3 separate regions of the Homo sapiens genome follow, and regions 1 and 2 are each linked to region 3. Evidence: fine-mapped expression QTL. A gene starts in region 3. Each other region holds a variant in brackets. All regions are shown on one strand. Distances are between the middles of the regions. Region 1 overlaps CRY2 (cryptochrome circadian regulator 2). Region 2 overlaps SLC35C1 (solute carrier family 35 member C1). Region 3 holds the start of LINC02716 (long intergenic non-protein coding RNA 2716).

The links. PIP is the estimated chance that this variant, and not a neighbour inherited with it, causes the effect.
Region 1: its variant is fine-mapped to the expression of LINC02716 in prefrontal cortex (ROSMAP, PIP 0.95).
Region 2: its variant is fine-mapped to the expression of LINC02716 in hippocampus (GTEx, PIP above 0.99). The same link has a PIP of 0.9 or more in amygdala, anterior cingulate cortex, aorta, breast, hypothalamus and lung.

Annotation. Positions count from the first base shown.
Region 1 is chr11:45,848,226-45,857,223 of GRCh38, forward strand. CRY2 (cryptochrome circadian regulator 2) reads left to right here. Exons shown (of 12, transcript NM_021117.5): 2 at 7,757-7,865. Among named protein-coding and RNA genes, the nearest start is that of CRY2, 5.2 kb to the left of the region's middle. RefSeq lists silencers at 1-20, 4,093-4,387 and an enhancer at 4,374-4,513. The variant CT/C (reference allele first, on the strand shown) is at 2,804.
Region 2 is chr11:45,806,185-45,811,184 of GRCh38, forward strand. SLC35C1 (solute carrier family 35 member C1) reads left to right here. Exons shown (of 2, transcript NM_018389.5): 1 at 1-152; 2 at 4,592-5,000. Among named protein-coding and RNA genes, the nearest start is that of SLC35C1, 3.5 kb to the left of the region's middle. RefSeq lists an enhancer at 1,184-1,243. The variant A/G (reference allele first, on the strand shown) is at 2,463.
Region 3 is chr11:45,766,099-45,776,155 of GRCh38, forward strand. It overlaps LINC02716 (long intergenic non-protein coding RNA 2716), which reads left to right and starts at 5,334. Exons shown (of 2, transcript NR_027134.1): 1 at 5,334-5,616; 2 at 5,895-6,260. RefSeq lists an enhancer at 5,026-5,527.

The sequences.
Region 1 (8,998 bases), 82 kb after region 3:
GTCCTGCCTCTAGGGGTGTCAAGTGACCCTGGCTTAGCATTAAATAAGGTCTTCTCCCCTATATTATAAATAAAGAAGCCAAAGGCGTCTTCAGGTGGAGTCGCTTTATGTTCAAAGCTCCAGAGAATCCAGGGGATTCTCCAAAATGTTTTAAGCCCTGCTCTGGAGCTTTGACCTCGATAGAAAAATTTAAAAGAATCCAAAGTGTCACCCCGTCATCCTCTTGTCATGATTTTAGAGGACAGTAGAGCCATTAGAGATGAGACTTTTATGAACTGTTGTGGTAAGGTTAGGGAGCAGGAAAGCCATGATATCAAGGGCCCCTCTGATGACCCCCCAGGAGATGGAGTCGACATGATCATGGAAAAAGATGAACAGGTCGTTAGTGTATTTTCACTGTAAACAGTATTCAAACTAAAGAGTTTTGAGACATAATGTACCCATCGCTCTTCAGAACACCTAGTGGCAGTCGCTCGGTTTGTTTGCATTGTTCTGGGGAATGTTTGCTTGTGGCCTTGTTGCATCGATGGACAGGGTTATTTCCAGGATACCGTGGCTCTCGGCACACCATTCTTTTCTCTCCAAGGTGTGTGCCCTGCTAAGAGAGTGAGTGCTGCTAGCAGTGGGCCTGTTCAGTGTCCCCTCCTGCCCAGAAGGAACAACTAAGGAGTCCTGTGGAGAGCCTGCCCACAGTTTTCAGGCTGCCTTATTGCTCTGTCTCTGCTCCAGTTTTCTACAGATAGGAGGTTGGGTTTGACAAGCATCATCAAATGACCATCCCTAGTGTGCACATTAAGCCAAGCCTCAGACTTTGCCCTGCACCAGTCGGAGCCAGGCAAATGGAATCCGACTACCTTCTTGTTACATTGTCACAGAGTTTCTTCTTTTATTGGGTTTTGGGGGACATTGCATAGTACTGCCTACTCTTTTTTGATAGGGAAGATTAAAAATCAACAATAAAATTCCTGTTGATTAAACTCCAGTTTGCTAGGAACCAGGTGTTTATGGATTTTTGTGGGTCATCATTTTGTGATCGTGCTATCAATCTAGTGAAGAAGAAAAGGAATGTGGCTCAGATGCCTGAGTCAAATCCTGAAGTCAGAGGCTGTGTAAGAATGCAGATATTAATTGATCACTTAATAAGTGCCTAATATCTGCCAGGTACTGCTCTAGATGTTGCTAGGGATACAGCAGTGAATAAGCAGATGTGTCTGTGCTCCAGAACTCCTGGAGCCTACATTTTACCAACAAACAACCATAATTTAGTGAAACGAAGTGCCATGAGAAACATAAGATAAGGGGACAGACTAGAGCAGTGGTTCTCAATCTTGGCTGCTGTGCATTGGAATCCCATAAGGGTCTTTAAAAGATACCTGGGCCCCTTTCCCCCAATTCTATTTTTTTTTTTTTTTGAGACGGAGTTTTGTTCTTGTTGCCCAGGCTAGAGTACAATGGCGCAGTCTGGACTCACTGCAACCTCCACCTCCCGGGTTCAAGCAATTCTCCTGCCTCAGTCTCCCAAGTAGCCAGGATTACAGGTGGCCATCGCCACACCTGGCTAATTATTTTGTATTTTTAGTAGAGACAGGGTTTCACCATGTTGGCTAGGCTGGTCTCAAACTCCTGACCTCAGGTGATCTGCCCACCTTGGTCTCCCAAACTGCTGGGATTACAGGGCATGAGCCACTGTGCCCAGCCCCTTTCTCCCAGTTCTGTTAGAATTGTTCTGGGTTATGGCCTGGGCATTAAGGTTTGGGGATTTTTTGTTTTGTTTTGTTTTTTGTTTTTTTTTTTTTTTGAGACGGGGTCCTGCTCAAGTGACAACCCAAGCTGAAATGCAGTGGCATGATCATAGCTCACTGCAGCCTTGACCTCCTGGGCTCAGCGATCCTCCTGCCTTAGCCTCCCAAGTAGCTGGGACTGCAGGCATGCACCACCATGCCTGGCTAATTTTTGTATTTTTTGTAGAGATGGGGTTTCACCATGTTCTCCAGGCTGGTCTTGAACTCATGGGCTTAAGCAATCACCTGCGTCAACCTCCCGAAGTGCTGTGATTGCAAGTATGAGCCACTGTGCCCGGCCTTGGGCATTAAGGTTTTTAAAGCTCTTATTGCAGCAAAGCTTAAGAAGCACTGGACTAGAGAACCTCAGTCCTGAGACGGGCAACCTAGGAAGTATGTTGCAGTGCATTGGCAGGAAGTCTAATTAATGTTGGCATTCAGAAGAAAGAGATGAAGTAACACAAACAGATTGAATATAATAACTGCTCCTGGGCCTGGAAACAGACACACTCCTACCACCTCCACCATTCTGCTTGCTTCCTGGATCAGTTGAAGGCAGAGCTGCATTCTCTTTTGTGCACAAAGTTGGGGATAGAGGGGAGGGCTGGAGCCAGCCATATCTTGACATGACTGTAGTATGTGTAATCGTCCCGTGGTTGTTTCTGGATTCCAAGAGTGGTCTAAGAGAATTGTGCTGCAGCATAATGTCCTAGCTCTGCAACTGCTTAAGTTGTCTCTGAGAAGCCTCCCTGGGAAGGGCAAGGGACCATCTGCAAGGAGGGGAGGACCCAAAATCTGTGACTCTGTTTCCCTCCTGCTCCTTCTACACTGACTCCCACACAATGTTTTTCTGCAGAGGAAATCAGATTAAAATAACTATGAATGGCACTAAGAGTAAAAACGGACAGAGAAATGCAACCAAGAAATACACATATTGATTAGCAAGAAGAAGCCTAGCATACTTCTTGCCCTGGTGATGGTGGGAAGTTTACGGGCTAATTGTAGCTATATGAGCCTCAGGA[CT/C]TTTTTTTTTTTTTTCCAAGTGCTACTTGGCTAAGCCCTTTCACATTTTCCCCAGCCTCACCTTCCCCAGATTTGCTACATCTAGAAGGAGGTACTGCAGCAAGAAGATAAACTAAAGGAAGATGTGAGCAGTTCCTAGATTTTAAAATGACCTCTGTGGTTTTTCATTACCTTTCTCTCCCCACTGCAACTTGGATAGGTGTTAGCAACAGTTCCTCTTCCACTTTATTTAAATCATTTTGTCCCTGGCTCTGTGCTGCGCCTCTTTCAGGAGCTTCTGGGACAGAGGGAATTTGTAGAAATAAAATATGTTCCCTCTCAGCCCATTTCTCTTAGAATTGGTAAATGAGGTAAACTGGGAACTTCCCAGGATGCCCCATGAGAACAAGTGTGTCTCTCTTCCCAGATGCTGAGAGCTGAACACTGTTGGACTGTTGGGAAGTGGATTGAGAACGCTAGTCTACTGGCAGGGAAACAGGAGCTTCTCTGAGCTATTCACATTGGTACCTGAGAGAGGCACTTTACTGTTCTGCTGCCAAGGAAATGTTTCTGTTTGCCCAAAGGGGATAAAAACCTTCATCTTTCTCTTTGAAATTAGGAAAGAATAAATATATTTTTAAAATAATAAGAATTTAATATTTAAGTATTTCTAAATATCACTCAGATACTTAGAAATAAATCCCTGCCAGAGATTGTGAGTTTAGGTTATCCTTTTCCATGGGGCTTAAGCTCTCTTAATTACTTAGGAAAAATTAATTTCTATTAATATCCTATGTAGCCAATCTGTGCCAGCCAGTGGTATCATCATCGTTGTTAGATAACCTTGCCTTGAAGCAGAGGAACTTGGTCAAGGACAGCCTGGACCCAAAAGAATTCACTGTTATCCTCCCTCCCCCCATTAACAACAAATAAATAAAATATTCCTCAACACAGGATCAGCCATTCCTAGAGAAGGCCTTCCCTAAATATGAGTACTTAATCAAAGGATCTGCTTGTTTTATTCTAAAAGGCTAGCCTTGTAGAGTCCCTGAGTTATAGTGTCCTCTCTATATTTTTGGAAATCCCAGTCTGGTTTTCTCCAGTTCTGCCTGCCTCTGGCTCCAGAGCACTTACATAATAATGTAATTCAGTTGCACATGTTGTCTAATCCAAAGGGTAAGCTTTGCTCTCCCAGGACCATGTGCTCTGAATTTTGGCCATGTGAGCTCAGCTAAGAGCTGCCAAGGGTGAAGTGCCAGCCCCCAACACCACCATCTCCAATGCCCAGGCCAGTTTCCTTCAGAGTCCCCTCATTGGAGTAAAGAGAAATTGGAGTAAAGAGGAGGGTTCTAAGGGACCACAGAAGGCCCAAGGTTCTCTCTGGTGAAAGAATGCATATACCTGCCCACTGAGCCTTTGCCCAGTCGCAGCACTGCTCCAAATGTGAGGGACAGCTGTCACCTGGCAGGCCTCAAAGGTAGTACCCTAGTGGTGGCTTCTCATTCTCTGCATTCTCTGGCTGCCTGGAGTCTGGAGATACTGGGGACCCTCCTCACATCCCTGTCTATTGCCTCCGTGTGGTGGCTGTCCTGAGCCCTCCCTTCCCGGGTTGACTCGGGAGGGAAGTTGGAAGAAGCAGAGCATTTCTAGCAGGCCAAAGGGGAGGCAGAAATATGGATGCTCAAGAGAGAAAGTTTAGTACAAACAAACTAGAAGCAAAGAAAGGCAACTTGTAACAGAGACTAGAAGTAAAGTTCAGTTTTCTAGAGTAGTGCTTGTGAAACTTTAATATGCAAATGAATCACCAGGGGATCTTGCTAAAATACAGATTCTAATTTTGGAGGTCTGGGTTAGAGCCTGAGATTCTGCATTTCAACAGACTCCTGGGTGTTTCACAGCCAATGCTGCTGATTGTCAGACCACACTCAGAGGAGGAAAGATCTGGCAGCAGAGGTGTTGCTGGCCTTTGAGTTGGCCTGTGGTGCTCCCTAATGGCTGAGCCCAGGGCAGCACAGCCTCAGTGCTCTGTTTGTTGAGAGGCAGTGGCTGGCTAAAAACGAACATGTCAAGCCTGACAGATTGCCTAGGTTTGAATTCTGGCCACTTACTAGGTATATGATGTTGGGCAAGTTTCATAATCTCTCTATGCCTCAGTTCCCTCATCTATAAAATGGGAATAATAATATTACCTACTTGATTGGGCTGTTTGAGAATTAAATGAGGTAATGTATGTGAAACAAGTAGAATAGTGCCTGTCATTGTAAATGCTTATTAAATGTTAATCATTGCCATTATTATCATTATTTTTATTTAGTTGCTGGGTTCAGAGTTGGGCCTTCTACCAGCCTCACATCTCTGCTTCCTGCTATAAACATCTTTTGTGAAAGAAGAAAAGGGCTCTCATAGGATTAGCTGTACTTTAGAGATGCTACGAGGAATCTCTCCTTTTAGTAAATGAGGTCTAAAAATAAAGTTCTATAGAAGGCAGATTGCTACATGTTCTGGAACCTAGATTTCATGTGCATTCCAACCTTATTTATAGCTTCAAATCAAAGTCCTATGCAGCCTGGTGGACTGTGAAGGAAAAGACCCCCAAAGCGCATGGCAAGGACACTCCTGGGAGCTGCAGATGGAGGACCCTGTGTCCTGGGGTTATGAAATTTAAATCACTGCTCCTAGCCCTAGGCATTCTACCTGGCAGGGTCCAGGTTTCAGATGGCATGAGACCATTTGCATGGATTTCTCTTCTTTTCCTTCCAGAAGAGTGGTGAGGCTTGGGGGAGGCCAACACAAGTGACGCACTTGCAGCTCCCTGTTCCTTTTCTGGAGGTGACAATTTTTCAAAAACAGAAATTCACAGAGGTGGAGCTTTTGGTTTGCATAAAGCAGCATTCAACCTGTTTGTCTTCCATCCCAACCTCTCAGAGAGTCTTCCTCATGCTCTTTTGCAAACATGATGCTTTGAGCCGAGGCCAGGGCTCAGCCCATGCTAGAATGTGGGTCGGTGGCATTGGCCGTAGGAGTGTGTCAAGTTGTGTACGTCAGAGGCAGCAGTGGGGGCTGGTTCTAGTTGGCAGCCTGGGAATAGTCACTGCTTCTGTAAGCCTCCAGTAGTCAGGGAATGTGACTGTGATGTGCCATTTCTATTGTTGACAGAGAAAAATGCTGGGGATGGGTGGAGACCCAAGGGGTAGATAGCAGGTGCCTCAGAGGTATCTGTGACATATGCAGATTGACCTGTGGGTTCTTGAAGAAGAAGATAAGAATGCCAGTGGATTACCTGTAGTCACATTGCTATTAGAGAACAGGATTCCAAACTCCTGAGGGCCTGCAGAATCTCAGCCCCTGGAACAGAGTTGGTGTGCAACTAGAAATCTTTAGAAATGGGGCACAGAACCCTCACGGTGGCTCACGCCTGTAATCCCAGCACTTTGGATGGCTGAGGAGGGCGGATCACTTGAGGTCAGGAGTTCAAGACCAACCTGGCCAACATGGTGAAACCCCATCTCTACTAAAAATATTGTTTAAAAAATTAATTGGGTGTGGTGCACATACCTATAACCCCAGCTACTCGGAAAGCTGAGGCAGGAGAATCGCTTGAACCTGGGTTGGGGAGGTTGCAGTGAGCCGAGATTACGCCACTGCACTCCAGCCTGGGCGACAGAGCGAGACTCTGTCTCAAAAAGTAAATAAATAAATAAAAAAGGGCACAGAGAGGAAAATGTGGGTTTCAGAGTGACCACCCTAGGTTCCTGAATCCCCAGCTTTGTCACTTAACAGCTATGGTCTTAGACAAATTAATTCACCTCTGAGTGTCTCAGTTTCCTCATCTATAAAATAAGGATGGTACTATTTCCTTCAAAATAGTTGAGAGAATTAAATGCAGAAATGCACTTAAAAAGCATGACAGAACCAAAATCCCATTGATAACCTTGGTTGCCTCTGGGGAGTGAGGGAGGGGAAAACCCTTTCTACTATGTACCACTTTGTCACTGGAATTTTGAGCCACATGAATAGTTTATCTGGTTATAATGTTAATTTAATTTAAAAATAAAACGCTGAAGGCACTCAGCAAATGTTAATGTCCTTTCCCTTTCCCCTGGTGATCCAGGTCTCCTGCTGAAGTTCTTGCCTAGCTGCGGTCTTCCCCACCCCCACCCCCACAAAAATGTGAAGATAGCTATTGAGAAGTACCTTTTAAGGCCTTCTCCCTCTTGGGATGAGAACCTGATCACCAGAGCCCTGGAGAGGCCTGGAGAGTGAGCCACCTGCCAAACAAAGCTCTGGGAACTAGGGACCCATTGCAGGCTGTGAGGCTGTGGCAGCAGAAATACGCATGGCCCAGAGCATGCATGCAGAAAGTCAAGGAGTCTTTTCCACCAGAGTAAGGAGGATTTTCCCGGCTGTGGCAGTCTGGTCCTCTGCTAAGAGGACCTTAATGCTTCATACCACAGTATTGCACTGGCTTTTCAGATGGCTCCCACGTGAGTCTCACAACAACCTCATGCTGGGCAGATACTTATATCTAGCCCCAGAGACTGCGAGGGAGTAAGTGACTAGCCTCTGATCACACAGAAACACCACACTAGGAACAGCTCACATTTATCTCATGATGTCTGTGTGCCAGGCACAGTGCTAAATGTTTTTCACACATTATTCGATTTTCTTTTCTTAGCAATTTTATGAGATGGGTACTAACATCAGCTTCACATTACCGGCGAGAAAACAGGCAAAGAGGTTAGGTTATTGCCTAAAGTCACACAGCTAGTAAGTGGCAAGACCAGGGTTTGAAGCAGAGCAGCGCTGATCCACTACCACATCCCTCCTGGGCTGGAACCCAGGCCTCTCCAGCCCTAGTGATCATGAGGCTGCCTGTTGGGCATAAACAGCGAACCAGTTTCTCCCTGCTTTGTTAGGAAAGAGAGCCACTCTTCATGATGTTATCACTAACAAGGCCTGTGTGGACTCCACAGGTTCCTACTTCAGTCTCTGGAAGATTTGGACACAAGTTTAAGGAAACTGAACTCCCGCCTGTTTGTAGTCCGGGGACAGCCAGCCGACGTGTTCCCAAGGCTGTTCAAGGTAAGCGTGCAGAGCCCCAGAGAAGACAGTGAGATTCTGTCCCTGACGGTTTCCCCACAGCCTGAGTGATATGATATTCCGACTGAGGGAATGGAAACATCAGGGCTGGTCTGGCTGTTGCTGCTAGAGAAGTTGGGAGCAAAGGCAGCCAGTTAGCTTGCTCTTGGAATGGAAACTGTGTTAAGGAAAAAAATTCTGGGAAACCAGTGTCTTGTTGGAAAGCTCTCAGCTCAGTCCAGACATAGGATGTGGTAAGTCATTCCACTCTGGATGCCACTGGCTTCCTTCAATGTTTTCTTGGCTCAAGCCAGCCAGATTTATTAGGGTTCCTTCTAGGCCAAGACTTTGAGGTGGGGTTTCATGTCTAGCAAGGTACATTTCCCATCTTGCTTTGCTCTGCTTATTGGGAAAAGTCAGCCTTTTCTGCCGGGCGAGGTGGCTCACGCCTGTAATCCCAGCACTTTGGGAGGCCGAGGCAGGCGGATCACGAGGTCAGGAGATCCAGGCCATCCTGGCTAACATGGTGAAACCCCGTCTCTACTAAAAATACAAAAAATTAGCTGGGCATGTTGGCTGGCACCTGTAGTCCCAGCTACTCGAGAGGCTGAGGCAGGAGAATGGTGTGAACCCGGGAGGCGGAGCTTTCAGTGAGCCGAGATTGTGCCACTGCACTCCAGCCTGGGCAACAGAGCGAGACTCCGTCTCAAAAAAAAAAAAAAAAAGGTCAGCCTTTCTGAGGAAGCTTTCTTGTTTCCCATGGGGTAAATGATTGATAGAAATCTTCATTTTGGTGCCACATAGGTTTCTGTTTGCAGTAACGGGGCCAGTCCACTTTTCCCTCAATCCCTTTAAAAAGTATATTCTAAGGCCCACATAGAAGCACAGGAACTCATGGACAGAGGGCTGTGGGACAGACTGCCATCACCCTCAGCAGCACACAATGATTGTCATGCCCCTCCCCACCCTAACTCCGAGACAAAAGGAAAAGTCATGTCAAGGCAAACAGCTTAGTGAATACATCATCCTTCAATTCCCCTCCCCGTAACCCCACACATAATTGTGCATACATGTACAAATCACACAGTGCTAGTAATTGCCCACATTCATTGAGGGCTGCCTATGAGTCAAGCGCT
Region 2 (5,000 bases), 38 kb after region 3:
CACCTTCAATAACCTCTGCCTCAAGTACGTCGGTGTGGCCTTCTACAATGTGGGCCGCTCACTCACCACCGTCTTCAACGTGCTGCTCTCCTACCTGCTGCTCAAGCAGACCACCTCCTTCTATGCCCTGCTCACCTGCGGTATCATCATCGGTGAGTGGCAGCTGGGGCCACGGGGGATAGAGTGGTCATGGGGACTGAAGCAGTGAAGAACAACTCTTCTAGGCATCCTAGGACTTCATCTGTCCCAGCTCCTTTGGTGCAGCAGTCATAGGAGAAAGAGCCTGGGGGCACAGAGAGAGCAAGTAACTTACTAAAGGTCACCCAGCAAGTTAGGAGCCCAGCCGGGGCAAGAACAATAGTAATAATAATAGTAACAACAGCAGCAAAAGCAACTGACATTTGTTGAGTGATTAAAATGTGCCAGGCACATGGATCTTAGCCATATTAACTCAGCTAATCTTCATAACAAGATGGGATTATAATCCACATTTTACAGAGGGAAAAACCAAGGCACAGAGAAGTTAACTAACTTGTCCAAGATCACCCAGCTAATAAGTGGCAGAGCTGGGATCTGAACTCAAGCAATCTGGCTTCACAGTTCACATGCCCGACCACTGTACTTTATTGTTTCTCAAGAGCTCAGGTGTCCTGATTTCCCAGCCAGTGCTCTTAGTAGAGGACAATACGTCTTTTAATAAATATACCATCACTCTCTGCCAGCTCAGGATAGCGCCTGAGACAGTAGCAAGCAATATGCTTTGAGAGGCCTCAGCTGTCTTCCTGGACTTGACCCTCAGAAAATAATAATTATTGATGGGGAAATTATGCTAATTATTTCACATATAGCATCTCCTTTGTTCTCCCAGAGATCCCCTGGGTTGTGGCATCACTACCAGCGGTCATCTCTATACAAACAAGGAAACTGAGGCTCAGAGATGTTACATTACTTGCCCACGGCCACACAGCTAGCAAGCAGCCAGGCTGGGATGCAAACCCAGATTGGCCAGACTCCCAGGCCTGTGCTTCTATCCCCTCTGCTCGTCTTGGAGGTTAGAACTGCAGTATTCAATGCAGTAGCCATTGGCCACTTATTTAAATTAGTTAAAATTAAGCAAAATGTTAAACATTCACTTCCTCATTTGCAGATGTTACAACCTGATTTTCTAGCCACATTTCAAGGGCTCAGTAGCCAAATGTGGCTGAGGGCTATGGTATGGGACAGCACAGGTTAGATGGGCCCATATTTTACTGGGCCCCATGCTGCGTTAGAGAGCCTCCAGCATCCCATTCCCTCCGAGTCTTCCCAGGGCTGCGTCATCTAGGAATGGGGTCTTCATTTGAACCTATGCTGGTTTTTCCTGGTGCTATAAAGTTTATCTTATTTGGCCTACATATCATATTCTTTGCTGATGGCTCAGGGTCCCAGGCTAGATGCACCGGTTGGTGGGGGAAGGGACCCATCCCATGCCACCTGTCCTAGAAAATGTTTCCCCTTGTTGAGCAGCTGCTGGATCTAGGGCTGCTGGGTCTAAGTCCAAGAGGGGAGAAGGGAGAAGGTCACAGTTAGAGTAGGGGAAGCTGCAAGACCCCCCCTGCCAGAACTCTCCCAGCCTGCTTCCATTTCCCTCTCCAGGGAACAGGTGTACCTCCCCTCCTCCCTGTCCTCCTCAGATGCCCCAGGGCTCTCTACTTCATTCCTGCTGACCCTGCCAGGAGTGGCCTCAGGGGTAGAGGCTCCTAGTTGGAGAATTTGCTTGCAGGAAGGTGAAGACACTAGGGTAACTGGGCCCAAATCCCAAAGGTAATCCAAGTAACCAGTGGTGAGGTTCTGAGAATGGTGCATTCACGGGCGTGCCTGACTGGGACAGGGGCCAGGGAGGTGGACGCTCTCTGCCAGCCCAGGACCTGGCTCCCTATCTGCAATGTTTCCTCTTTCTTCCTCCTTGTAGGGGAAGACGAGTCTCAGGCAACTATTCTAGGCCTCCCCTCCTAGCCCCCCATGTCACACAGTAACTTTCAAAGCTCCTTCTGGGCCAGGCACAGTGGCTCATGCCTGTAATCCCAGCACTTTGGGAGGCTGAGGCAGGTGGATCACCTGAGATCAGTAGTTCGAGACCAGCCTGGCCAACATGGTGAAACCCTGTCTCTACTAAAAATACAAAAAATTAGCCGGGCGTGGTGGCATGTGCCTGTAATCCCAGCTACTCGGGAGGCTGAGGCAGGATAATTGCTTGAACCCGGGAGGCAGAAGTTGCATTGAGCCAAGATCGCGCCACTGCATTCCAGCCTGGGCGACAGAGCAAGACACAGTCTCAAAAAAAAGTTCTTTCTGGGCAAGAGTCGCTCTAGAACATTGATGTTGCAGTTGCTTCTGGACTCAGAAGGTAACCACCAGGAGGGCTAGGGGTGCTGTAGCCAAGCAGGTGAGTGGGTGGTGCAGCCCTCTGCCCCCCTCACCCT[A/G]CCCCCAGCAGGTCTGTGGGTACCCCTTGTGCAAAGGTTCTGTCAAGAAAGAGGAGGGTCGGGCTCTGTGGTTGGGCTGGGCATGGTGGCTCATGCCTGTAATCCCAGCACTTGGGGAGGCTGAGGCGGGCAGATCACCTGAGGTCAAGAGTTCAAGACCAGCTTGGCCAACATGGTGAAGCCCCCTCTCTACTGAAAATACAAAAATTAGCCAGGCATGGTGGCGCATCCCTGTAATCCCAGCTACTCAAGAGGCTGAGGCACGAGAATCGCTTGAACCCAGGAGGCGAAGGTTGCAGTGAGCCAAGATCGCACCACTGTACTCCAGCCAGGGTGACACAGCGAGACTCCGTCTCAAAAAACAAAGAGAAAAAGAGAAGAGTGCTGTGTGTTGAGTGCCTATGATGTAGGAAGTATCCTGTCTCCTTTAATACAACCACCTCCATAACAACTTTCATTCATTCATTCCACGACTAGTAATTGGTGGCTAAACACATGCCAGGCACCATGCCAGGCTTTGGGGATACAAGTTTGGAAAAGGTAACCTCAGCTCCTACACTCCTGGAGGGCATGGTGGTGACAGTTACGCTAGCATAGTAAGGGCTGTGATGGGGCATGCATAAAAGGGGCTGTGGGAGCTCTGGGCAAGGGAGGGGACCCGGGGACAGGGCAGTCTAAGCAGGCCTTCTGGAGGAAGTTTAGAAACTGGGTTTAGAGGAAGAAGTAGGGACAGAACATTCTAGATAGAAGGAAGAGCACGTGCACTTCTTCATGGCTGGGCCACAGCAAGACTCACCAGACACAAGGCTGCCCAGTCAGGCCGACTCCACGTGGTGCAGGTCCTAAGAGCTGTGGTGAGTGAGTGGAATTTCTCCTGAAGGCAGTGGAGAGCCACAGAGAGGCTTCACACCAGGGCACAGCCTGGACCGATCTGGACTTCAGGATGATCATATCAGTTGCAAGGTGGAGAGTAGATTGGCTGGAGTGGAGGACAGGGAGGTGACCCAGAGAGCTCAGAGTGGTTAAGTAACTTCTCCCAGGCCACTCAGCTTCTAAATTGCAGAGCCTGATTGGAGGCTAAATCCCTCTGACCCCAAAACTTTCCCCACTGCCCCGTGTTGCCAGATGCTGTGGCAGGAAGTATAACATGCATTGTTCAGCCCCTGGCTTCTGGGAGCATGGGATCTGGCTAAAAAGACCAGACTGTCACCATGGGCAGGGGCCCAGCAGCCCAGAGCAGGCAAGGGGCTTTGCAGGAAAGCGAGGCAGTAAGAGTCCAGGTTCTGGGATTATCAGGAAAGGATTCCCCAGGAGAAGCCAACTTTGACCTTGACAGATGAGTAGAATCCCCCAGAAAGGAGGAGGGTGTTTCTGGCACAGGACATGAACAAGGACACTGAGGCCCAGGGTGAGAAGCAGGGAGACGAGCAGGGAAGCTGGGGCGACCATAGGACAGAGGAAGGGCCTGCACCCCCGCCTGCCACGCCAAGGAGTGTAGTCCTCATGGCAGAAGTGGGGAGCCACGGAAGCTCTTTGAGCAGGAAGTGACACAAGATGAGAGTCTCAGAGTCACTGCCCCAAATGACACAAGAGATTCTAACTTAATGTGCCCCATGATGACATCATAGGCTCCCATTCCATGCAAGAAGCAGCCAAGGCTTAGACACTGGAAGTCATTTACGCAGGGTCACCTTAAATCACATTAACCACTAAGTGGCACTCATTCTTCAGAACTCAGTTCAACTGTTATTTTCAGATGCCCCAGGCCAGCACAGTCGCCCACTTACAGGCTCTCACAGCACCTTGTACTACTTTATGGACCTCATTACAATTCTTACAATTGTAATTAAAGAAGTAACTGGGAAGATTTGTTTTAATGTCTTTCTCCTCTGCTAGCAGATAAGCTGCCAGAGGAGGTTTTCTTGCCCTGGGCGGCTCCCATAGTTCATGTGGAGTGCTTTGCCTGCAGTGGAGACTCTGGCTGTGCTTATTGGAGGGAGGCCTGGGGAGGAACGGGGAGGGCCGCAATACTCAGTCTGTGAAATTTGGTGTCTGATCCTCTGTCCTTCTTCCTCCTCGTCCTCATCCCTCTTCCTCACCCTTCCCCACTCCTCCTCTCCCCACTGCAGGGGGCTTCTGGCTTGGTGTGGACCAGGAGGGGGCAGAAGGCACCCTGTCGTGGCTGGGCACCGTCTTCGGCGTGCTGGCTAGCCTCTGTGTCTCGCTCAACGCCATCTACACCACGAAGGTGCTCCCGGCGGTGGACGGCAGCATCTGGCGCCTGACTTTCTACAACAACGTCAACGCCTGCATCCTCTTCCTGCCCCTGCTCCTGCTGCTCGGGGAGCTTCAGGCCCTGCGTGACTTTGCCCAGCTGGGCAGTGCCCACTTCTGGGGGATGATGACGCTGGGCGGCCTGTTTGGCTTTGCCATCGGCTACGTGACAGGACTGCAGATCAAGTTCACCAGTCCGCTGACCCACAATGTGTCGGGCACGGCCAAGGCCTGTGCCCAGACAGTGCTGGCCGTGCTCTACTA
Region 3 (10,057 bases):
CCCAGAAGCTCCAGAAGGAACCAACCTTGCCCCACCTTGTCTGAATTCTAGCCTCAAAAAATGTGAGAGAATAGGCTGGGCACAGTGGCTCATGCCTGTAATCCCAGCATTTTGGGAGGCTGAAGCAGGAAGATCTCTTGAGGTCAGGAGTTCGAGACCAGCCTGGCCAACATGGTGAAACCCTGTCTCTACTGAAAATACAAAAATTAGCCGGGCATGGTGGTGGGAGCCTGTAATCCCAGCTACTCAGGAGGCTAAGGCAGGAGAATCGCTTGAACCCGGGAGGCGGAGGTTGCAGTGAGCTGAGATCAATCTACTGCACTCCAGTCTGGGCGACAAAGCAAGACTTCATCTAAAAAAAAAAAAAAGTGAGAGAATAAATGTTTGTTGCTTTAAGCCCCCACGTTTGTGATGCTGTTTTACAGCAGCAATAGGGAACTCCTGCGTCTTCCCAGCCAGCATCCCCAACACCTCTCCTCAGGCCAAGCCCTATTTCTCTTGAGGCTCTGTGCTGTTCAGTGACACTAACCTGCCCCCCAGCCAGCCAGCCTTGGCCCATCAGCACATTCTGTCTCCAGCCTCTGAGATTGGTGCAGGGACGGTATGTGACCTGACCTGAGGCCATGAGACCTGAGACATTTGCTGCCAGCTCCTGAGAAAGAAGCTTCCTCGCTTCCAGAACAAACACTCTCTCTCCTGTTAGACCCGAACAAGGACGCCATCGTGCTCCAATGAGGGTCTGAGAATACATGGATAAGCAGACTGTTTCTCCCACTATACACTCACAGTGGGCTTCTTACACCAGATGGGTGTTTGGGGAGGCGTTCCCACATAGTAAGCAAGCAATCAATTACGCAGCAGACACCAGTTCGGTGTCCTCTAATTCAGTTCACTTCCCCACCTGGAGATAGCGTCAGGTTCCACAGGCTAAGGACTCAGTCCCCAAGATGCTCCCCTTCTCCCGATGCCAATCACAAGTCCCAGAGTATTTTAGCTGTGCTTCTGACCAACTGACTATAATTGAGGTTCCCACAATCCCCTCATTGGTTGGATTAATTTGCTAGAGCAGCTCACAGAACTCAGGGAAACACGTTGACTCACTTATTATAAAGGATACCACAGAGGACACAGATGGGCAATGCATAGGGCAAGGTATGGGGGAGCAGAGCGCCATCCTCCAGGAGCCCCGTGTGTCCAGCTGTCCAGAAGCTCTCCAGACCCTGTCCTTCAGGGTTTTTATGGAGGCTTCATTACACAGGCGTGATTGATTAAGCCATCGGCCATTGGTGATCAACGTAACTTCCAGCCCCTCTCCCCTCTAAGAGAGAATGGGAGTGGGGCTGAAAGCCCCAGTCCTCTAATCCTGCCTTGAACTTTCTGGAGTAGCCCCCATCCTCAAGCTACCTAGGGGCTGCCAGCCAACTGTCAACTCATTAGCATACAAAAAGACACTTACCACTTTGGAGATTCCATAGATTTTAGGAGTAACATGCCAGGAAATGTGGACAACAACTCAATATGTATTTTACGATATCACAAAGGGGAGCCAGCCTCCAGATGAAACCAGCAAAATGGGACCCAGAGTGGAGAGACAAGGACACTGGTCCAGGGGCTACTGATTCAAGCCTCACCTGAAACCCACATCACCTCCAGACTTCTGAGCTATGTGAGCCGCTAATTCCTTCTTGGGTTTAAGCCAGCGAAGTTTCAGCTCTCTACTCCTTGAGACTGAAAGAGTTGACTAACTCCTGTGAGGCTGGATCCATGAAAACAAAGGCTGTCATCATGATCAGGGCTCTCATCCTATCTCAGCTCCATTTCCCTCTGGGTTGGTTTTGCCCTTAGGCAGGCCCTGCTTTCCTAGTGACAAGATAACACCTAAAATCCAAATTCAGCTTAGCAATCCCCCTGGAAAGAAAGTATGTCTTTTATACCAGTCAGGTGTCTGCTGCACCAATGCCATGCAACAAGCACTCTGAAAATCTCAGTTGCTTATAACAACCATTCCTTTCATACTCATGGGTCTGCAGGTTAGTTGGGGGGTTGTTAATATCAGAGTTAGGCTGGACTCCAGTCTCTGGTTAGGTTCAATTTGCCCCACAGTCTCCATCCTGGACTCCAGATGAAGGTGCCATGGTCGCCTGGGTGTACCTTCCTTTCTCATGGTGGGCAGGAGCTCTAGAGGGGCAAGCGGAAACACAAGATACTTCTTTAAGGCCTAGCTTGGAACCCACACATCATCACTTCTACCGACATTCCATTGACCAAAGCAAGTCAGTGGCTGAGCTCACCATGGATGGTGTGGGGAAGAATATTCACCCACAGTGAACCATGCAAGGGAGGGAGGGAATGAAGAAGCCTCAGCAAAACTCCATCAAACACGTCTTCCTCAACAGTGCCTCAAAGATCTTGGAACTGACTCATTGGCCTGGCCTGGGGTCAATGCCTGAGGGAGGTAGGAGTAAGGGTACAGCTAGGGGTCTCCCATATGGGAAGAAGGGTTATTTCCCAAATGGAAGTCAAGGTGTTGCTGACACAAGAAAGGGCAATGGATCCCACATAGGCAATGAATAAATAATTACATAAACCAGCACTCAGCAAACGGCAACGTGAAAATAAATCACCTGAGATGCTATTACAATGCAGATTCTGAGAGCCAGGCATGGTGGCTCCGACTGTAGTCCCAGCTACTAGGGAGGCTGAGGCTGGAGGATCTCTCAAGCCCAGGAGTTCGAGGCTGCAGCAAGCCACAATCGCACCACTGCACTCCAGCCTGGAAGACAGAGCAAAATCTCATCTCTTTAAAGAAAAAAAATTCATTTAATAAAAAATAATGCAGCTTCTGATTCAGTAGGTCCAGGGTGGGGCCTGAGATGCTGCATTTCTTTTTTTTTTTTTTTTTTTTTGAGACGGAGTCTTGCTCTGTCACGCAGGCTGGAGTACAGTGGCGTGATCTCGGCTCAGTGCAACCTCCGCCTCCCAGGTTCAGCAATTCTCCTACCTCAGCCTCCTGAGTAGCTGGGATTACAGGCACGCACCACCATGCCCAGCTAATTTTTAGAGACGGGGTTTCACCATGTTGGTCAGGCTGGTCTCAAACTCCTGATCTCATGATCCACACGCCTTGGCCTCCCAAAGTGCTGGGATTACAAGCGTGAGCCACCGAGCCCAGCTGAGATGCTGCACGTCTAAACAGTCCCAGATGATGCTAGCAAGGACCAGTAGCAATGAGCAAGACTGAAATTGGGAGAGTCTCTCAGCCTTCTGATGCCACATTCTCATTTACAAAATGATAATTCCACCTGCCACACAGACTTTTCTCAGCCAGGAAGATGGTGCCCTCGGGGGGATAAGGTGATGCGACATTTGTGCTGTCACTCACCTCCTGCCTGCCCCCTGCACCTCGAGGCCTCCCTCAGCCCCCAGGAAAGGACTCACAGCCCAGCCAGCAAGGAGACAGGAGGAAGATATCACAAAGTGAGTGCAGCTTCTGTTAACTGCCTTAAGCTGCTCCCTGCAATAATGTTGGTGTAATCCATAAGATTCAATTATGGTTATCAGACAATTAGGCACACCACAGCGAGGTTATTGCATAATTAATGCTCAGTCCCCATCTCAGCCTCTGAGAGTGACACAGGTTACAAGATTCACCTGCCCCGCATCTGGGAGAGGAGCAGGGGCACCCAGGATGGGGAATGACCTCCCTGTGGGCTCAGAGGAGGATGTTCTTAGGACCCCAGAGGCATGGCAAAGGGACAGTGTGTGGCTGAAAGAGCTTGAGTCAGTGTGTGCCCAGGGCCCTCACGCCTGCCATTGTGTTTAGGACTTGGGCTTTAATCTCTGGAGCGAGATTCAAATCCTGCCTCAACTACTGATTGGCTATATGGCATTAAGCACTCGCCTTACATTTTTAAAGCCTCCATCTCCTTGTCTTTTAAAGAAGGGAATTGATGATGTTATGAAAACTGGATGAGAGAGTTTGCATATTGGTTAGATGGTTCCTGCAGTACTATTTTCATTATTTCCCTCTCTGAGCCTCAGTGTCTTCATCTGTAAAATGGGAATAATTAGCCTCACCTTGCCTAGGCTTGAAAGATCAGCCGGTAGTTTGAGACCTGCCTGGGCAATATAGCAAGACCCTGTTCACCACAAAAAAGGAAAAAAAAAAGGATGAAAGATCAGTTTGTGAGTCAAGTAAGACACACATGTGAACGGGATGTGTGGAGTGCTTTGCTAACGCGCCATTGTCTTAGTTACTATGTGCCTGGTTTTCTGCTCAACCCTCCAGGGTACGACTTTGTACAAGTCCCCAGGTCTCAACAGGACAGTGGGTGATCAGCCCACCTGAGAAGTGAAACTCATGATTTGGGTGAGTAGACTAGAGGAGAATCACTTCTTTCTTTCTTTTTTTTTAGACGGAGTCTCGCTGTGTCACCCAGGGATCTCAGCTCACTGCAACCTCTGCCTCACCGGTTCCAGTGATTCTCCTGCCTCAGCCCCCCGAGTAGCTGGGATTACAGGCACACGCCACCACACCTGGCTAATTTGTTATTATTAGTAGAAACGGGGTTTCACCATGTTAGCCAGGCTGGTCTTGAACTCTTGACCTCAGACGATCCACCTGCCTCAGCCTCCCAAAGTGCTGGGATTACAGGCATGAGCCACCATGCCCGGCCTGAGAATCATTTCTTGAGCTATGATCTGTAACATTCAAATGAGCCTCAACGGACACAAAACAGAAAAATCATCAAAAATGTCGGTGAAAAGTTCAGGTGGGAGAACTCAGGTGATGGTGCAGACAGAAGCAAGTAGGGGAGAAAGCTGGCTTCAGGGAGAGTGGTTAGGCCTTTGTGAGAAAGACTGGGGACTTCTCATATCATCCTCTGTGTCCCAGTTCCCAAAACACACACGCACATGGGCACATGCATGCAGGCACACAAAAACAAGCCCATACACCAGACGAAAAAATACAGATGCAGGTACACACACATGGACATGGACATGTGTGTGCCTGTGCCCATATAAACAAACATTAGTGCACACACACACTCACACACACACAGGCTCGGGCAGTATGTGCTCACACACAACCATACACACAGATACGCACAGAGGTACATTCACACACAGACCAACACACACAGGCACACAGATGCATGCACGCATGCACGTGCGCGCACACACACACACACGTGCACCCACCCTCAGTGATAACCTTCCAATCCACTGGCCTCTCCGAAATTAGCACAGACCATTTTCCCACGACCCTTTCTCGCTGAGCGTGTGATTCCAAAACTGTCCACAAGAAGGTGCTCGGGAGCCAGAATTCAGGCGTTCCCGGCCCGCGGACGCTTAGAGAGGGGAGCTTCGGAGTTATGGGGGGACCCACCCTTCCATTTAATAACTGAGAAAGCCACGGGAGGGGACTTGCTGGGCTCACAGCCAGTGATCCCTGCCCTGTTTCCTTATGGGGACTGCGGTCAGAAATGGGGAGTGGGGCAGAAACTGTCACTGTCACGGTCCTGTTTAGAGAGGAAGGTCGGAGAAACCAGTGCCGTGGAAGGCTCTGGGGCGTTGACAGGCGCTGTCCCCAGCTCACCGGCTCTATGACCCTGGGTAAGTTACCTGGCTTCTCTGTTCCTCAGTTTTCTCGTCTTCCCTGACCCAGGCTTTCCCGACTCCTCTAGGGGCCCCTTCCCCTCTCCATGAACACCTTCAGATCTCGGACTGTTTTCTCCACTCAAGTGGCATCTCAGCTATCCCCTCCCGGGTTAGGCCTCCCTGGCCCCTATTTAACGGTGTCCCCACCCCCACCACTATCTTGTTTGTACCAACACTTGCTGCCTGACAATGCACACTTGTTCATTTGTTCACGTTTATTTTGTCTTCTCCAGAAGAATGGAAACTTCGTCAGAGCAGGGACGTGAGGGTGAACTGCTCACCCGGGCACCGCTGGCGACCGGAACCCAGCTCCCTCCGGGCTCCGGGAGAGGCGGCCTCAGCTGTGTGCTGGTGCTGCCCTCCAGCGGCGCTGGGTCCCCATGGCACCTGGCTTTCTCCTGCTCCCCAGGGGCCTTTTCTTCTCCCGCCCACCTGTCACCAGCCGCCAGGGCAAGTCTCTGTGTGACTCTAGGGTGAAGGTGGAGGGACCTTGCCTCCGAGGATTCATCCCACCCGGATTCCGATGAGTGAGGGACCCTCTCTGGCACCTGGTGTTTGAATGGCCAGCCTCACAGTTAATAAAGACAAGTTTGGTATCAGCTGTGGGATCCGTCCAGAAAAAGACACCTTTGGGGCAGAAATATAATGGTGCCTGTCTCGACATAGTCTAATAAGGAAAGAAAGACAAGCCAGTCCAACGGTCCCATTTTACACATGAGGTCACTTCATCCCCACCTAGGACAGGAGGGTACAACGGCCTGGCCTAAGATAACCCTAGAATATGGTCACTCATTCTTCCACCCACTGAGAACCTCAGGGCAGTAGAGTTTTATGCAAAGCATGTGGTCCTGAAAAACTTGCATAATTCAAAGCGTGCATAATTTCTGACTAATTTTGCCAGAGAAATGAATGCAAAGTAGAAAGGATAGGTTGCATACATTACTCCAATTGTGGCATATTTTTGCCTTAATGCTGCTTTTTATTTCCCTGGCATTATCGCTAATATTTCATAACGCACTCTCTGCTAAATTAACAGTGCAGCATTTCCTGCCGGTGGTTTGGCCTTCTTCATAACGTTTTATCACATCTCACTTCCTTTCCAATGTTATCGATTTTCAGGTGCGTTTTTCAGCACCACCACTTAAAGAACACTTGGATGACATTGTTACAGGATATGGGTAAAATATTTAAAGTTATAATAACTGTGAACATTGAGAAAATGGCACACCAGTCACCAGAATCTCCTGCAGAAATTAGAAATTCAGAGGCATGTAAACAACAGTGCATGCATATAGAAAGCAGGTATTTCTATTTAATAACCAAAGCAACGTCGCCATGTGGCAGGTTTACAGTCCTCATTTAACAGCTCACTTAGTTCCTCCGACTCAAGGAAACTGCAATTCTTGACAGGTTTTTTTTTAACTGAGGGGCTTGGCATTATTTCCAGCTTAGTGCATAAACATGTATTAGCATTTTTATATTGCACCTTGCCAAAGTCACAGTTTAGACTCCCATAAACAGTGACTTCACCCTAAATGGTCACCCTAAATGGTTAAGGCTGTGTCCTTAACCCCAGAAGGGTGGAAATGTATGACTCCACCTAGTCATCTCAGATACGGATTTCAGAAATCTCAGCCACCCACCTCATACTTACACAGGGACCTTTTTGGAGGCAGCATCATCTGAGGCCGCTCTTGCCCAATTTGGCTGGCCCCACCTCCTCCCCAACGTCATCTTCTCTTGCAGTCTAGAGAGGGGGGCTACTCCCCCAATATAGCATCCATATTTAGATCCATGTTGGAGGGTGGGTAGAAAGGGGAGGTAGGATGAGGGAAAATTGAGTCTCAGTTTCACACATTTGTAAGATCGTCAGACTTTCCACATTGCCAAGAAACTCGTCAGCACAACCGCTGTGAATTGGCTTCTTGGCCTTCGTCTGCCCAGAATTGCTTCCAGAATGGCTCCTTCAGCTTGGCCTGAGCTTGGCCCCAGAAAGAGTGCCACGGGCCCTAGGAAGGAGGAAAAGTGGGGCATTCAGGGCAGGCTCTGAACCCACTTGGATTCCAGTCCTGATTCCATTTGCATGTGACCTTGAGCAAGTCTCTATGCAAGGCACTTCACCTTTCTGGGCCTCAGTTTCCACCTCTGTCAAATGGGGATAATAATACCATCTACTTCCCAGAATTGGTGCCAGAATGAAAAGCAGTCCCTGCTGTGATAGTGTCTAGAACAGAGTAAGTGCCCAATAAATATTCCTTCGCTCTTGTTGCAGTTAGAAAAGCGACTGGATGAGGCGTACATTTACTGGTACCCTGGGATGTATAAGGGCCAGTGTCCGGGTGAGGCGATCCTGCCCCTCGGAGAATTTATGGTCCAACTTTGGAGAGTGAACCTGCCCTCCCACTAATTCAAGAATTCACCAGCCAGGAGAACTGCATGTGGAATTGCCCGGTCCAGCCCTGACTTTGCGCAAGTGTCCATCAAGTCTCCTTCTGCCTCTGGGCTGCCTCTGAGACTTGAGGGGGAGTAAACAGGAGCCTAGGGGTCTCTCCACCCTCCAGGTGCCCCATCAGGCCGGCACCTCCCCACCAGCCCACCCCTCCCCTTGCAGCAGCAAATCTGCAAATGTGCCTTGCAAGCATGTCCAGTGGGCCAGAAGCCACACTCATCCTCCCCACCCCTTCAGAGGACAGCAGAGGTGCCTGGCCCAAAGGCGGTGGTTGGAGCCTGGGCTTCCTGCCTGGGGTGGGGTGGAGAGGGATCTGCCTTCTCTTCTGGGCCCCTGCCCCCCAGGTTTTTCTTCCTCGATACTCACGTTCCTTTCCCTGGACAATCCCTTGCTCTATGAGGGCCTCAGCTTTCCCCTCTGAAAAATGGGCAGCCTGGACTTCTCCAGCTCCTCCAGCTAAGACATTCATCTCCCTATCTCCACACCAGCCTCGCCGCCAACACCCCGGTCCCTCTCTCTCTCCTCTGCTGTTGTGGGGGCCTGTCCCTGGGGTCACTGAGGCTACTGCTGGCTGGGCTCCCAAGCACCAGAGAAGGACTCCACAGAACAATAGCAGAAGGAAGGGGGCCATTCTTCAGGAGGAGAGAATGAAATGGCCTAGCTCAGCCATGCCTGCCCTAGGTCCAAAGCCCCCAGCTCCATTCCTGCCTCTTCTGCCATGTTCCCATGTTTCTACATATGCATGTCTCCCACCAGACAAGGTGGTCCTGAGAGCAGGAGACACCCAGGCTATCCTCGCTGTATGCCTAGCACCTGGGTGCTGGGACCTGTTTCCTGGTCGGACAGAATGGGCGCCCACCCAGCAGGTGCAAGGATGGTAATGTTTTCCCGGCCTGTAGCCTGAATTCCAAGTGTCCACTCAGGGCCAAACCATGCAGTCAGAAAAGGATTCTCACTGGGCAAGTGGCTCAGGCCTATAATCCCAACACTTTGGGAGGCCAAGGCAGGTGGATCACTTGAGGCCAGGAGTTCGAGACCAGCCTGACCAACATGGCAAAACCCCCTCTCTACTAAAAATACAAAAATTAGCCGGGCATGGTGGCAGGCACTTGTAGTCCCAGCTACTCGGGAGGCTGAGGCAGGAGAATCGCTTGAACCCAGGAGGTGTAATTTGCAGTGACCCGAGATCGCGCCACTGCGCTCCAGCTTGGGTGACAGAGCAAGAATCTCTCTCAAAAAACAAAGCAAAAAGAAAGGACTCTCACAGTGAATAACCTAAGTCTACAAAAATAAAAGAAAGGACTCTACCTCAGGCCCACACTTCCCTCCCCTCTCTGCCTCCCTTCCCCTCTCCCCCAAGCCCCTCTTCTGCTTGCCTCCAGCCTCCCACCTAGAGACTCAGTCATTTCTGGCTCTTTCTGACCCTGCTTTAGAATGAGAAAAAATATGGGGAAGCAGGGGCTTTTGATCATAAGGACAGGGGAAAGGAGATGGGATCCTTATCATGGCCTAGCTTCCGGCAAGATGTCTAAAACTCACATAGAATTGTCTCCTAGGGGAAATCACCCACCTGCATAATTTTCATATCCAATAATACTATAAGAGTGTCTATGTCCTTCCTACCTTGAGTTACATTTCTAAAAATCTTTATCATGTGAGTCACGAAAGGTGCCAGCTGCCAATAAGTGTGCATGGGGAGAGGACAGATAGCTGGGAGTAGAGATTTATGTTGCCTGATAATACTAAAGAATTGCTATACTCAGTTTCATCAAACCCAGGTCCTAATGTCAGCCTGAAATTCTTCCTCCTCCAGGAAGCCCTTCTGGACTGGGAGGGAAAGTCTATGATACAAGAAACAGTGTCTGATGTTTCCCAGATCCACCTTTTTTTCTCCTGTACCACGCCCACCACCTAGACAGCCCTTTCTCCATAGGTGTCCAAATGCCC